2 separate regions of the Homo sapiens genome follow, and region 2 is linked to region 1. A link means that fine-mapping ties the variant in region 1 to the expression of a gene that starts in the linked region. Tissue or cell type: fetal neocortex. Region 1 holds a variant in brackets; the other region holds the start of a gene. All regions are shown on one strand. Distances are from middle to middle.

Region 1 (8,000 bases):
TAATACAGGTTGAACATTCCTAATTTTAATCTGAAATGCTCCGATATCTTAAACTTTTTGAGTGCCAATCTGTCAACACAAGTGGAAAATTCCACACCTGACCTCATGTGACAGGGCATAGTCAAAGCACAGGTGCACGACACAGTTGATTTAGCGTCCCCAAGGGAAAAAAAAGACCCACCCAGCCCCCTTCAACTATAGTATAACTTTTCCATGCACACCCAAATTCCCCCACACAAGCACGCCCACAATGTGTAATAAAATGGCACGTGTGCAGGCTGGACGCACCCAACGCAGATTCCCCACGATACCTCACGTGGGGCCGAGAACTCCATGCATTACTCACTGTGGTTTTTTGCTTATTCTCTGCAGTGTCATGTAAAAATATTACTGAAAATGTCGAAAAGGCCTGCAGATCCCCCTATGTGTAACAGTGATCAGAAAAAGAGGAATAATTTATGTTTATCAATAGCACAAACAGTCAACTTGTTGGAGGAACTGAACAGCAGTATAAGTGTGAAGCGTCTTACAGAAGAGTATGGTGTTGGGATGACCACCATACATGACCTGAAGAAACAGAAGGATACGCTTTTGAAGTTCTATGCTGAATGTGATGAGCAGAAGTTAATGAAAAATAGAAAAACTCTACGTAAAGCTAAAAATGAAGATGTGAATAGTGTATTGAAAAACTAGATCTGAAGGCATCACACTGAACCCGTGCCACTCAGTGGTAGGCTGATCATGAAACAAGCGAAGATCTATCCTGATGAACTGAAAATTGAAGGGAACTGTGAATATTCAACAGGCTGGTTGCAGAAATTTAAGAAATGACATGGAATTCAAGTTTTAAAGCATCTGCAGATCACAAGGCAGCGTCGAAACTCATTGACGAGTTTGCCAAGATTATCGCTAATGAAAATCTGATGCCAGAACAAGTCTGTATTGCTGATGAGACATGACCATTTGGGTGCTACTGCCCCAGAAAGATGCTGACTACAGCTGACGGGACAGCCCCTACAGGAATTAAGGATGCCAAGGACAGAATGACTGTGCAGTGCTGTGCAAATGCAGCAGGCACGCATAAGTGTAAACCTGCTCTCATGGGCAAAAGCTTTTGTCCGTGCTGTTTTCAAAGAGTAAATTTCTTACCAGTCCATTATTATGCTAACAAAAAGGCATAGATCACCAGGGACATCTTTTCTGATCGGTTTTACAAACACTTCGTACAGGCCTCTTGTGCTCGCTGCAGAAAAGTTGGACCGGATGATGACAGCAAGATTTTCTTATGCCTTGACTACTGTTCTGCTCATCCTCCAGCTGAAATTCTCATCAAAGATAATATTGATGCTGTGTACTTTCCCCCAAACGTGACTTCATTAGTTGAGCCTGTAACCAGGGTATCTTTAGATCAATGAAAAGTAAATATAAAAACACTGTCTTGAATTGCACGCTCGCAGCAGTGAACGGAGGTGTAGGTGTAGAAGATTTTCAGGAGCTGAGCATGAAGGATGCCATACATGCTGTTGCCAACGCTTGCAACACAGTGACTAAAGACACAGATGTGCGTGCCTGGCGTGACCTCTGGCCTACGACTGTGTTCAGTGATGATGATGAACCAGGTGGTGGTTTAGAAGAATTCAGCTTGTCAAGTGAGAAGAAAAGGATGTCTGACCTCCAAAAAATATACCTTCAGAGTTCATCAGTCAGCGGGAAGAAGTACACATTAATGTCATTTTTAACATTGATAATGAGGCTCCGGTTGTTCATTTCATTGACTGTTGGGGAAATAGCCAGAATGGTTCTGAATCAAGGTGATCGTGATGATACCGACCATGAAGATGACGTTAACACTGCAGAAAAAGCACCCGTGGACAGCGTGGAGCTCAGGTGTGATGGGTTAACTGAGGCCCAGAGCAGCGTGCATTCACAACAGAACAAGCAATCATGTCAGCTTATAAAATCAAAGAAAGAATCCTAAGACAAAAAAGAAAGAAAAAAAATTAGCCGGGCATGGTGACACGTGACTATAGTCCCAGCTGTGTGGGAGGCTGAGGTAAGAGTCTTGCCTGAGCCCAGGAGTTAGAGGCTGCAGTGAGCCGTGATCATGCCACTGCACACCAGCCTGGGAAACAGCGAGGCCCTGTCTCAAAAAAACCCAAAAAACTAAGTAAATATTTTGTACATGAAACAAACTTTGTGTACACTGAACCAACAGAAAGGAGCTGTCGGTTCTAAGACCATTGTTAGTGGTGCAGATACCATTAAAAAGCCCCCCAGCAGAATGCCTCCTCGTCCCCAGAGGACCCACTTCCTGGGCCTGTAACTGCTTCTTATGTTCCTTCTCACCTAAAATGTAAAATGCCGTGTCCCGTAAGCTTTGAATCAAAGCACAGCATGGTTGGGAGAGCAGAGGCCTGCTGTTGTTTGTTGTTGCTGCTGTTGTTCAGCAGCTGATTGCGGTCTCTGCTGATGCCACTGGCTGCTTAGCTCCCCTGAGCACGTAAGTCTTCACTGTGTTAATGGCATGTCTTATTTTTTACTGTGAAGTACTTATGTGTGAATAAGTGTAAGGAAATGACTGCTTGGTAGTAGCATATAAATTCAGAGTCACGGGCAGGCACGGTGGCTCACGCCTGTAATCCCAGCACTTTGGGAGGCCAAGGCGGGCAGATCACTTGAGGCCAGGAGTTCAACACCAGCCTGGCCAACATGGCAAAACCCCATCTCTACTAAAAATTACAAAAATTAGCCGGGCGTGATGGCACATGCATGTAGTCCCAGCTACTTGGGAGGCTGAGGCAGGGGAATCGCTTGAGCCTGGGAGGTAGAGATTGCAGTGAGCCAAGATTTCACCACTGCACTCCAGCCTGTGTGACAGAGAGACTGTCTCAAAAAAAAAAAAAAAAAAGTCACAGTCAGGAATGAGGGTGATGCCACACAACCACTGATTGTCCACATGGGGGTGAGGGCTGAGATAGTGATACCTCTGCTTTCTGATGGTTCCATGTACACAGACTTTGTTTCATGCACAAAATTTGTTTGTTTATTTTTTGAAACAGAGTTTGGCTCTGTTGCCCAGGCTGGTGTACAGTGCTGCGATCATAGCTCATTGCAGCCTCTAACTCCTGGCCTCAAGCGATCTTCCCACCTCAGCCTCCGTTGTAGCTGGGACTACAGTCATGCTGTCGCACCTGGCAATCACACCAGTCTATGCACAGAACTATTTAAAATACTGTATAAAATTACCTCTAGGCTATGTGTATAAGATGCAGATGAAACATAAATGAATTTTGGTTTTAGACTCTGGTCCTATCTTCAAGATCTCTCATTGTCCATTCCAAAAATGCCACCCACCACCCCCCAAAAAAAATCTGGAATTCAAAACATTTCTGGTCTCCAGCATTTTGGATAAGGGAAACACCACCTGTAATATCCTTTTACACATTTCCTGGATGGGAAACAGAAGTTGGTGTGGTAGGAGTCACACATAAACGGCAGACTTTCTTGTCTGTGACACATTCTTAGGATGTCCTAGAGAAGTATCAGCGATGTGAATGTCTCCAGTCAAATATCAGAGCAGAAAGAATATGTTGAGAACTGCTGTATTATTAGACTGGGCTACTTTCTTCAAACAACACATGGTATCAGGTCATTCATTCATTTACCCAGTAGATATTTCCTACACACTCGTCATATGCCGAGCATATCCTAGGCACTGCAGGTACAGCAACTGACAGGAATATACAGCCTTTGCCCTTGTGGGACTTAACATTTAAGAGAGAAGACAGGCAGCAAACAATTTCTTTAAAAATCCTTCTGGTGGTAAATGCAATGAAGAAAACAGGGTGAGTATAGAGAGGAGGAGTGAGGTAGGCCCCTTGCAGGTGAGTGGCATTTGAGCTGAGGCCCAGATGATGAAGAGAAGGATGGACTCTTGTAGGTCTATTGGACTGGCCCTTCCAGGAATGGTAAGGGCTGAGAGGTCAGGAGAAGCGGTAAGTTTAGCGTGGCTGAAATGAAGGGAGAGAAGACAAAGCAATAGGAAATGAAGCTGGAGAAGCAGGCAGCTTCAGACAGGACCATTCCAGACCACTGACACCTTAACAGACAACAGCAAGAAGTTTGGGTTCTGTTCTAAGGATAAATGGAAGTCACAGAACGATTTTAAGTGGGAGGATTAGGCTGCGGTATATGTTTGTTTACTCTGTTTGTGTTTATTTTTGTTTTAATGGATACAGAGTCTCCCAATGTTGCCCAGGCTGGTTTTGAACTCCTGGGCTCAACGGATCCTCCTAACTCGGCCTCTCAAAGTGCTGACACATGTTTTTTTAATGGAAGCAGAGAAAGCA[G/A]TCTCGGACCTTTGCAGTGGTTCAGGTGATTAGTGATGGGGGTTAGGACCAGGGACGTATCGATGGAGGTGTTGTGAAGTTGTCATATTTTAAATATACATTTCAGAGCCAGGTGCACTCGCTGATACATTGGATGTGGCATATTAGAGAAAGAAGACTCGAAGGTGGCACCTAGTCTTGTGTTCTGAGCTTCCAGAATGAGGCATCTAGAAGCCAGGACCCGGGAGAAGCACGGAAGGAGCAGTGGTTTATTCAGTCTGCAGAAGCAGTGCCTACAGGACTGCTGTGTGAAAGAGGACACATGTGATATGAGCAGATGAAAATCACACAGCAGGCAGCTCTGGGCTCATTATGAGAAACGACTCTAGGAATATTTGTAACCTGCTGGGCTCTACTGCTAAGGGCTGCCTTAAGCCATGAAGCCGCAGAGGCTGGGTGACCACCGTCCCACAGTGAGGGAGCTGGGCAATTCCTTACCAGAGTGGAGATGTGGCTAGATCTCCTAGCCCTAACATGCTTACTTATTTTGATAAGCAAAGATGAAGCTCACATGGGTCCCGTGTGCTCTTGAACTTCTGTACATTGTACCATTAACCACACTTGGATGCTGGCAATCGCAGTTTTAGTTAAATAAAGTGACTTGCCCACCATACTATAAAAAATTAATTTTGGTAGCATGTTGATTCTGTATCCTAACCATAAGACCACACAGAGCCATGGCTAGTAAACTTTAGCTTGTGCGTAAATGCCTGCCAAGACCTGCTAAATACTGTTGCTTACATTTAAAAAAAAAAAAAAAAATTTTTTTTTTAATTTAAATTTCACGGAGCTGCTCAAGGGCAGTTCAGCTTCCTATTCATCTCTGTCTCCACCGGCCAGGACTGGCATTACTCTAACATCTGTCCTACGGCCACATTTTATGGGATGTTTGAGGATTATTCCTATGAAGTGACATTGGAATTTGGGGATGTGGCTATGTTCAGATGCCAAATAAACTTGGATAGAAATCATTTTTCCTGTGTGTGTTTACAGTTAGGAACGTGGGGCTGTGAGGGGCTCCCTGGACATGACCCTGGAGCTGTCGGCCCTTGTTCAGTGGTCAGATGCGCTTCAGACCTCCCAGAGTGCTGCCCGCACACTCAGTCACAGCCCCATGCGCACCTCAACGCCACTGCTCAGAAGTCCAGTGTAATTCCTCAGGCAGCATGTCCTAGAGCAGGCCATGAGAGGTGTAAGGTACAGACTTTGTTGTGAGGTTACATGTAGGCTTCTGTTCCATCTTGTCTCTGTTTAAAGATCGATACTTCTGGCAGCCTTTATCCCCACCACGATAAATACGTGGATGGAAGGATACATGCGTGGAAGGGTGGATGGGTGGATGGTTGGATGGATGGGTAGACGGGTGCATGGGTAGATGGGTAGATGGGTGGATGGAGTGATATTTGATTTCATAGTCAAAGAACTCAAACAGTAGACAAGTACACAGGGTCCTCCAGTCTTACAACCCTTCCTTAACTACAATAAAGATAGAAGTGTATCTTCTAGATTTCTTTTAAAAACATATTTATGAATGTAAACATATTATGGTCAGGTCCAGTGACTCACATGTATAATCTAACACTTTGGGAAGCCAAGGTGAGTGGACTGCTTGATGCCGGGAGTTTGAGACCAGCCTTGGCAACATAGAAAGACCGTGTCCCTACAAAAAAAATTTTAAAAGTAGCCTGGTGTCATGGCACATGCCTGTAGTCCTAGCTACTCAGGACGTCAAGGTGGGAGGATCACTCGAGGACAGGAATTCCAGGCTGCAGTAAGCCATGATCATACCACTGCACTCCAGTCTGGGCAATGGATCAAGATCCTGTCTCTTTAAAAAAAAAAAAAAACATATTTACATAGAAATAAATGTATATAAACACAGATATTGTTTAGGGATTTGTTTTTATATATATTGGAGAATGACATGCTTTTTCAGGAGCTTTTATTTAACCCTATGCCTAGAAGATCCTTCCAGCTTAACACATATACAGCTACTTCATTCTTTTTAACCATTGGGAGGTACTGTAATTAATTTATGTGCTTTCTGTTATTTTCATTGTTTTGCTATTGTATTTACTTATTTATTTTAGAAACAAGATGTCACTATGTTGCCCAGGCTGGCCTCAAACTCTTGGGCTCAAGCAGTCCTCCCACCTTAGCCTCCCAAGTAGGCGGGACTACAGGCATGAACCCTGCAATACGGCTGGCTTCTGCTATTTTAAACTCGTGTGTGTGTGTGTGTGTGTGTGTGTGTGTGTGTGTGTGCGCGCGCGTGTGTGTGTGTGTGCGTGTGTGTGTGTGTTTTCTAACTGAACAATCTGAATTCAATTTTAAGAGATTTTCTTGAGCTGGAATTATTCTAGTCCGAGCCCAGGCTCATGAAGATTTCTGTAAAATACATTCCAAGCAGTGAAATTACTGTGCCCTAGGATATGTGTACTTAAATTCTGATACACAAGGCTGCAGCAATTTACACTATTACTAACGGTACATAAAGTCCTATTTCCTATGTCCTATAAATTCCCATGTCCAGTACTGGACATAACCCATATTTTCAATATTGGGTGATCCGATTAGTTAAAAAAATAGATCTCATTAATTTCTAATTGCCTGATTACTAAATTATGAATGAGTCTGAATATCTTAGATAGGAGATTTATCATTCGTGAATTACCTGTCCTGATCCCTTAACTGTTTTGAAATTGGGTTATTTATATTTTTCACATGGTTTTACAGCAATGTTTACATAATATGGACATTAAACTTTTGTTGTGTTATAAAACTCTGTCTCTTTAGCTGTGCTTATGGTGTCTTAAGTATTACCAAGTTTTTAATTTTTAACTATTATTTTTTACAAAATTAAACACCTCTTTTCCTCCATGGCACCTACCCTTGTGGTTTTGCTTAGAAAGGCCTTCCTCACCCTCTGAGCTTTAAAAATAATCTCATATTCTCCTATTTATAGTTTTAAAAAATATTTAGACCTTTAATGCATGTGCATTTCACTTACTGTATAATGTGAGGGGACCATGTTGTTTTTAATAACTAATTTATTGACACTGACCTATATTGCCCCCTGTGAGTCATCTCTTACATTCCCACATGGTATGGGTGTGTTTCTGGTTATTCTCGTCCATTGATCTGTTTGTCTATTCTGTGCTGACCTCTATTTTACTGCTATAATTGTACAGACTGTTTTGATATCTGGTATGTCAAATTTTTTCTCATCATTTCTCTTTTTAAAAATCATCTTCCTATGCATTTTTTTCTTTCCTATAAACTTTAGAATAAACATGTCGTTTTCTTTTTGAAAAGTTTGAAATTTTTGGATTACATTGAATTTCTAGATGAATTTGGAAAGAGCATCATTTTTTCTGCATTTTTTTATGATTTTTCAAAACTGACACCTAGTCAGAAAACTAAGTGTAAAAATTGAATCCATAGAGTTTTTACAACCTGGAAGAAAATACAAATGTGGCTGAATGACTTTAAACCCTGAGTATCGGAAAAGGCTTCCACCTACCTATGACTCAAAAGCCAGATGCAATAAGACAAAGTGTTGATATAATTTGAATACATAAGAAATTGAAACTTATACATGGCAAAAGTTTG
Region 2 (8,116 bases), 71 kb after region 1:
ATGAGGGATTCGTTTTTCTCTCCATACATGGTCACCACCAAAGGCTAAGCTACCATCATCCTTTCTAGCTGGGAGTCTAGCTATAGTCTCCAAACTGTTTAAAATATACTCTCCACAATGCCTGAACAACTTTTAAAAAGATCAAATATAAGCATGTCACTCCTCTCCTTAAAATCTCAGTAGCTTCCCTGTCCTTTGGGATAAATTCTAAAATCCTTATGTGTCCCCCAAGACCCTGCTGTCATCTGGTTCTTGCCTATCTTTCCAGACTCAATCCCTAGCATCCTTGTCTCCTTTCCTTACCCCAATTATTTCTGTAAAAACAATCTTCAAATGGAGGCATGCGTATCCCTGAGAATATGGACACGTGGTCATGAGGAGTTTCAAGGGATTCAGTTTTCAGATCCCAACTCTTCTAAAAGTGATCTGTCTGAGGACTCCTGCAGTCCAGGCCCACCTGGCATTTCATAATGGCTCCTCTCCCCCCTGGCACATCCTAAATCTTACTACATTGTGCTGCCCTGCTGAGGTAGAAAGGTGTAATAAACCTTAGGACACCAACAGAGATAACTTATTTAAGAGATGCATTTCTTGTAACTTTTTTTTTTTTTTGCCTACAATTCCTTATCAGATTTTGTGAAACACATTGATTAAACTGTGTATTGCTAATAATAGTAACAGTTCAATCCAGAAGAAAATTTGCTTCTTAGGACCCTAATGATACAGTCTGATCAGTAAAAAACTTTGAAGGATAGAGCATATTCAATTATGATAGAATCCTGTGGTAGAAGTGAAATAAAAATATTTTCAGGGAGAAAAATAATCAATGCAAAATTTTCAACTGGTCAAAGGCTTAAGTATTTTTGAAATGAATGATGGGGTGGATATTAAGTCACTATAATATTTATAACTCACTGCATACATTTAAAAATTTTCTGTAATCACTTTATTTTCAAAACATCATTCATAACTCATCAGAACTTCATAACTACTTAAATTTATAATTAAAAGCCTTTTTAAATTTATCATTAAAAGCCCCCCTCTCCCCACCTTTTTTTTTCTTTGAGATGGACTCTTTCTCTTTTGCCCAGGCTGGATTGCAGTGACGCGATCATGGCTCATAGCAGCTTTGAACTCCTGGGCTCAAGCAATCCTCCCAACTCAGCCTCCTGAGTAGCTGGGGCTACAGGCATGCACAATCACACCCAGCTAATTAAAAAAATATATTTGTAGAGATGGAGGCCTCACTCTACAAAGCGCTTAAGTGATCCTTCCTCCTTGGCCTCCTGAAGTGCTGGAATTACAGGTATAGGCCACCATGCCCAGCTGAGAAAAACATTTAAATATCAGTTTAAGAATGTGTGATGGGAATACACAGCATTCTTTCAAGGGGCATCTCAACAAATTTTAAAAAGAACACTGTGGCCCACTCCAGTGCTATGCATGAGAATATGGTGATTTCTCAGCTTCAGGCGTTCAAATGTGCCATTCTCCCATGGAAAGCCCACTAAGTCCCTCAAGCTTCACCTGAAATACCATTTCACTGAGAAGTCTTCCTTGTCTCCAGACTAAATTAGATTGCCTTGATATATGCTCCCAGAGAACCAAGAATGTCCCCTTTTCATCCCACAGGTAACTCCTTGTTAAATGTTGTACAAGGAAGGCATAGACAGAATTCACCTTTCACTGTTCCACTGGTGCCCAGCAGGGTATGCAAAGGAGGAAATCAGCTGTGCTCTGAAAGAAGCACCATTCCAGTAAAGGGGAGGAAAAGGTCATCAGACTGCAAGGGCTCAACAAAAGTACAAGGTAAGGAGGCAGAGGGTGTGGGCTGATTATCAACTAAGAGGTTTGCACGGAAAAAGGGAAAAAAAAAAAAACAGAAAAACAGGGCCGGGTAGTGGCAGAAAGAGAGGGTGGATCTGTGACTGTTCGCAGGAAGAGAGGAGCGGGAGCAGGACAGACAATAACTGATAGTCAGGAGCTGGGTTTGGAGATAAAGAGGGAACAAGAGAAAGTTAAGTTCTGTGTTTTCATGGCAAACATTGCACAAAAGTTTACAACTTCGTGACTAACAGTAATCTGGGGTGATTCACAACAAATTTACACATAAACACATATTTACTGACTTTATACACAGCAATCCTAACGTGAACACAGAACCTGCTTTATCTTTTCGCACACTGTTCTAGTGTAGAGATGTCTGGTCTCAGTTAAAGAAAGCATAAGGAGCATTAGTTGTGCACACTGTCCACACCTGTGACTTTTTTCCACCAGTACTAAACCTAGTGCTTCTTACAGTACAGGACAATGACAGCCACAGAAAGAGAGAAGCTCCTTTTACTGTGTAATGCTTCCTGCTGGCCTTCAAATACTTGTTACTTGAGAGATCTCCATTCACCTGGCTTTGTCCCCAAAGGTCATCATCTACCAATGATGTTGTTATTTGATGTTAATCATGTATAAAGAAAGTAGCTACCATCCTGGCCCTGATTAGAACTTCCCACTGAAATACCGTCCTGCCTAAAGGTAGCACAGGCTCCCATTATGGTGGTGGTGGGGAGGGGGCGGGAATATATATATATATATATATATATATATATATATATATATGGTAAAGCATTCGGCATTCTTTTAAAGTACAACTATCCTTGAAAAGGGTTACATATTAAACCATTTTTACCACAGCCAAAGGGGAGGAGAAAGATCCAAAAGTCCTGTGGATCTGCTTTAACATCAATAAAACAGTTATCCACCCTTCGTAGCTTTTAGTGAAGGCTACAAAAGTATGCTTTTTATGGATTACACATGTGCACGCAACTACTTTAATTACTACAGAAAAAAACGAGGCTCCTTATTAAAAAAAAATCAGAAACAAGTCCAACAGACTCTGAGGAAATGAAGCAAGAGTGAATTCTGAAAAGGTCTAATAAACAGTATGGAAATATCCTTGTGGGATTGTTCTTCAGCTATGCATAAACATGTAATTATCATCATTACTGTGATGGGGAAAAACACGGACCCTAATTCTGAAACACCCTGGTAGCGAGAGACGGGCAGGAGGGGCTGCTGCGCACTCAGAGCGGAGGCTGAGGAGGCGGCGTCCCCTTGCAAAGGACTGGCAGTGAGCAGATGGGGACACTCGAGCTGCCCCGCGACCTGGGCCGAGCTGCCTACAACCTGGGCCCAGGTGCCTGCAAGAATTAGACCTCCGATAACGTTAACACCCACTTTCTCACTGCTCTAATTGTGTGCATCCCGGCGCCCAGGGGCTTGTGAGCAGCAGGTGCGCGTTCCAGGCAGCTCCAGCGACCCTTAAACCTGACCGCGCGCACGTCCGGCCCGAGGGAGCAGAACAAGAGGCACCCGGACCCTCCTCCGGCCAGCACCCACCTTCACCCAGTTCCGTCAGTCGCCACCACCTCCCTTCCCGCGTCCGCAGCCGGCCCAGCTGGGGAGCATGCGCAGTGGCCGGAGCCGGGTTGCCCGCGCCCCAGCAGGTAGCTGTACTGCAACTGTCGGCCCAAACCAACCAATCAAGAGACGTGTTATTGCCGCCGAGGTGGAACTATGGCAACGGGCGACCAATCAGAAGGCGCGTTGTTGCCGCGGAGCCCCCTGCCCCGGCAGGGGGATGTGGCGATGGGTGAGGGTCATGGGGTGTGAGCATCCCTGAGCCATCGATCCGGGAGGGCCGCGGGTTCCCTTGCTTTGCCGCCGGGAGCGGCGCACGCAGCCCCGCACTCGCCTACCCGGCCCCGGGCGGCGGCGCGGCCCATGCGGCTGGGGGCGGAGGCTGGGAGCGGGTGGCGGGCGCGGCGGCCCGGGCCCGGGCGGTGATTGGCCGCCTGCTGGCCGCGACTGAGGCCCGGGAGGCGGGCGGGGAGCGCAGGCGGAGCTCGCTGCCGCCGAGCTGAGAAGATGCTGCTGTCCCTGGTGCTCCACACGTACTCCATGCGCTACCTGCTGCCCAGCGTCGTGCTCCTGGGCACGGCGCCCACCTACGTGTTGGCCTGGGGGGTCTGGCGGCTGCTCTCCGCCTTCCTGCCCGCCCGCTTCTACCAAGCGCTGGACGACCGGCTCTACTGCGTCTACCAGAGCATGGTGCTCTTCTTCTTCGAGAATTACACCGGGGTCCAGGTGAGCCGCCTCCCGCTCCCGGGTCTCGGCGTCCACCCGAGCTCCCGGGGGCGCGGACCTCTCCGCTCCCCCACAGCTGGCGAGGGTCACCCGGCCGGCCCGGCGGACCCAGCACGGAGAGCACGTGCCGCCTCCCCGCCTTCCTCTCCGCATGCTTCCTGCCGTTCTGCCGAGATCGCTCTCTAGGAAGCTGTGGCTGCGTCGTCCTGAGGCTACGAGTGGGACCCGCCGCCCCTTTCCCCGCCCCTCGCCTGGGTCTGATGCTGCTTAGCAAAGTGGGTGCAGATGCACGTTTTAAATAATAGGGCACGCGTTTAGCAGTTTCTGGCCTTTGGTCCAAAGAGGTGGTCATGTTGGAACAGATCGGAGACGTCTACACTCCGAAGTGCGCTTTTACAGTGACCTCTTGAAACAGAAGTACAATTCGGTCTTGTGTTCTTTCCCCTGGACAAGTGAAAGCTGGGCGAAGAAATGAATACATTTGTTAACCGTAGAAGCCTAACTAGATACATTTCTTGCCAACTTTAACTGGGCTTGAATGTGTGGGTGATCTGTTGTCTGATTACTTTCTTTCTGTTACTGTTTCTCTGTAGAGATTGGATTCGTAGATTAAACTTGAGAAACAAACCATAAAAGTGGAAGGCCCTCTTTAACAGTAGGTATTTGAAGTGTTATAAAAAAAAAAAAAAGGTGAATTTTTCTTTTATTTCTCAGTTTGAAAGAACAGCTTTATTCTTGGTTATTCCTAATGTCCACCTAGTCCTCTTTTACTTTTCTTGGTAGGGTTAGGGTGGCATGGGGAAATGGGACGGTATCATTTTGTCTTTTTAACTTTTTTTTTTTCCACCTACAGCAGCTGTTTTTACCCTGTGGTCAGTCAGGTACTATATTTAGTTTGCAGTTGCACTGCTGATCGACCCTTGATGGCCCCAGTTGGAAGTTGTTTGGGGGGAAGGAACTAGGAGAGGCCAGGGCCTCCATTTAAACCAGTGTCTGTAAGTGTCTCCTTGGAAAGAAAAAAAGATACTGTTCCAGGTCATGGTTTCCTGGTAGTTGACGTTTAAAATGGGCCTCATTTAAAAATTTCAATAATTCAGGCTAATTTTTTCCCTTTATATGGTAACTCCACCAAGTTTGTCTAAATGTATGATTTTTATCATGATTAAGTTTTTACTTCCACATCATGTGACAACTGGCCTGGGATGGGATATAAGCTCAGAACACAAAGTCATTCACCTCTTAAAAAAATAATTCTATCTGTGGCGGGTTATGTTATTTTTGTTCAAAGAGGACACAATATGATGCAGAATACACCATTGAAGGATTTTTTGGTTTGGCAAGTTCTTATTTTTTTAAATGGCTGTAAAACCTAGCAGTGTTTCTGAAATTGCATACCTTACCTGATGTTCAGAGATCCGATTTACTTCTTGATTTCCCAGCAAGTGATTTTGAAAACATTTAATCTAATCATTCCCCCCACCGTCTGTTCAAATCAAAGGAAGTGGCATCCAGCACTAATTTTCATGCATTTATGAAAGGATGCCTGAGGACCCTTAAGTATAATTCAAAATTTTGTTTAATGTGTGTTCCTTGATGAAGTTCTTTAGGAGTCGTAGAACGAACTGATTGCCCACTGATCATCAAATGCAAGTTATGAACATTTAATAAAAATTTAAAACCAAGAGTTTCTTGTTCCTGCATTTTTATTTTTATTGTATGGAGGGGACAAATAATTATTTTCTGTTTAGTAACAGAGCAGGGTATTTTGAATTTATTAGGGTCTTTTTCTGCAATCTGGGTTTCCTGTGTACACAAAGCTACCTTTCAATATTTTTTATTGTTTCTGTTAAGATTAAATCAATAGAGGAATAAATAGCTATCTTCAAACATAAGACCCAAAGGAAAAAGATTTATAGTGATGTTCTGTCACCTTATTTTTTACCTGTGACTTTGTACCATTAACTTTGTCACTGAGATGTTTTGATTAAAATTTTTAGCTTGCTTTTCTTGTTTTGTTAGGACACTCTTTTTTTCTTGAATTGTTTTTATCAGCTTTCGTTTGCAAGGCTAGTGATGATTCTCTTGTTCTGTATAAAGTATTGTTGACTCATTTCTGAAGGGAGTTTTAGTAATTTAAGAGGTTATAAGTTTTTAAATAAAAGGTTTATTAATTTATATATATTAAAGAGGCATTTTAAAATAAAATTTTTTTTAAATGACATTTTTACACCTTTCAACTCTAGGTTTAAAAAATAAGTGGTTCACAGTAGTTCTTGCAGAAGAATATTTTCTTTTACATAGAATTTTTAAGCTGAAGAGAAGTAGTAGTAGGTCCATGAGATTTATGATCTGTGCTTGGCAGGTAAACCTGCTTCCAACAAATTTAGTTGGATTTTTCTTGGATTCTGGGTAAATACCTTTTTCTTCCCCAATTTCACTACTTTATTTTCATATGTATCTCTGAGATAGAGAAATATTTCAGTCAGTGCTGCTAAAATTGTTCCTTATAACTCGTTTATCCTTTTAGGTCCTTCCAGAATCTCTCATTGGTACTGAAACTCAAATGGGTACTTTCTTCACCATTTATTTCTTTAGAATAAGTAATAAGAATTTTATAAGCTTTTTTATATTTCACGTAATTTGAGACTATTGAAAATCCAGTTAAGTCTCTCTACTGTGTTGAGAGGCATTGATTCAAGTACCTGTGTTACTTTCCTGTGCTGCCAAAACAGATCACCTCAAACTAAGCGGCTTAAAATAATAGAACTTAAGTTCTCGTGATTCTGGAGGCCAGCACTTTGAAATCAAGGTGTAGGCTCAATTTTACTCCCTCTGGAGGCCCTAGGGGGAATCCGTTCTTGTGGGTTTCAACTTCTGGTGACTGGTGGCATTCCTTGGCTTGGGGCCCCATCACTTTAACCTCTGCCTTACAGTCCTTGCTGCCACCTCTTCTGTCTCACATCTCACTCTCCCTTTCTCTTAGAAGGATGCTTGTCATTGGGTTTAGAGCCCACCTGGATATTCCGGGATGATCTCTTCATCTCAAGATCCTTAATTATAACTGCAAAGAGCCTTTTTCCAAATAAGAAAACATTCACAGGTTCCAGGGCTTAGGATGTGGACACATTTTTTGAGGGGCTGCCCTTCATTCCCCCACAACAATGAACTCCATAGTTCTGCCTATTCAGTATTTTGTAGTTATTTCGTAGTTTAACTTGCCTTATTTCTTTAGGTATTTACGTATTAAAGCATTTTGGTCTCTGCTTTCTTTAACAGAGAACCTGGTTTTCTGTAATAAGTTTACTTACTTTCCCATAATCTTTTAGTTTCTTATTTACAGATTTACCTTCACATATCCCTTAAGTAGAACATTTGATTAACTGTTTTATTTTCGGAACAAATCTGCATTCTGTATAATAACCAACTTATTCATATTTCGGTATTCTTTTAATTCTTATCTGATTCTGAAATTACCATCTTGTGATTATATATATATATATATGGAAATAACTGAAATCCTGATAAATTAAAGGTGATATAACTTCTAAGACAATTAATTATGTATGATGTGGTGAATATACTGGTGTTTGGTTTGTTTGCCACTTAAAAGCCCTATCTATAGGATAGGAAGTAACTTGAATGTGGAATGCTTAGAGACTCAGAGTAAGAGGCCGTATATATATCCTTGAGCTGGAGTTTAAGGAAAACTTATGGGAAATTAAAAGGAAAGTTGGAGTACTGACAGAGGATTGGGTAGGACTCATGAAAAAGGAATGAAGTTACCTTAAATTCTATCATCGTGAGTTAACGTGAAACTAGATTTATGTTAGTTTATAGCCTAGAATTCTATCCTAGGAATCTAGATATATCCTAAATGTTGAGATAGCTGCATAAACAATAACTGTAATCGTTATGATAAATAATGACAAATCTTTTTAGCATGTTCTGTGAAGCTGATAAATGTTAATAGGATGTC

The links. PIP is the estimated chance that this variant, and not a neighbour inherited with it, causes the effect.
Region 2: MCPH1-AS1 starts here. The variant in region 1 is fine-mapped to the expression of MCPH1-AS1 in fetal neocortex (Walker 2019, PIP 0.95).

Annotation. Positions count from the first base shown.
Region 1 is chr8:6,633,446-6,641,445 of GRCh38, forward strand. All of the region lies in intron 13 of MCPH1 (microcephalin 1), which reads left to right. All of the region lies in intron 1 of MCPH1-AS1 (MCPH1 antisense RNA 1), which reads right to left. Among named protein-coding and RNA genes, the nearest start is that of MIR8055, 15 kb to the left of the region's middle. The variant G/A (reference allele first, on the strand shown) is at 4,350.
Region 2 is chr8:6,704,748-6,712,863 of GRCh38, forward strand. It overlaps MCPH1-AS1 (MCPH1 antisense RNA 1), which reads right to left and starts at 3,462. Exons shown (of 5, transcript NR_125386.1): 1 at 3,394-3,462. It overlaps AGPAT5 (1-acylglycerol-3-phosphate O-acyltransferase 5), which reads left to right and starts at 3,895. Exons shown (of 8, transcript NM_018361.5): 1 at 3,895-4,140. The coding sequence starts at 3,922. RefSeq lists silencers at 3,649-3,988, 4,049-4,288.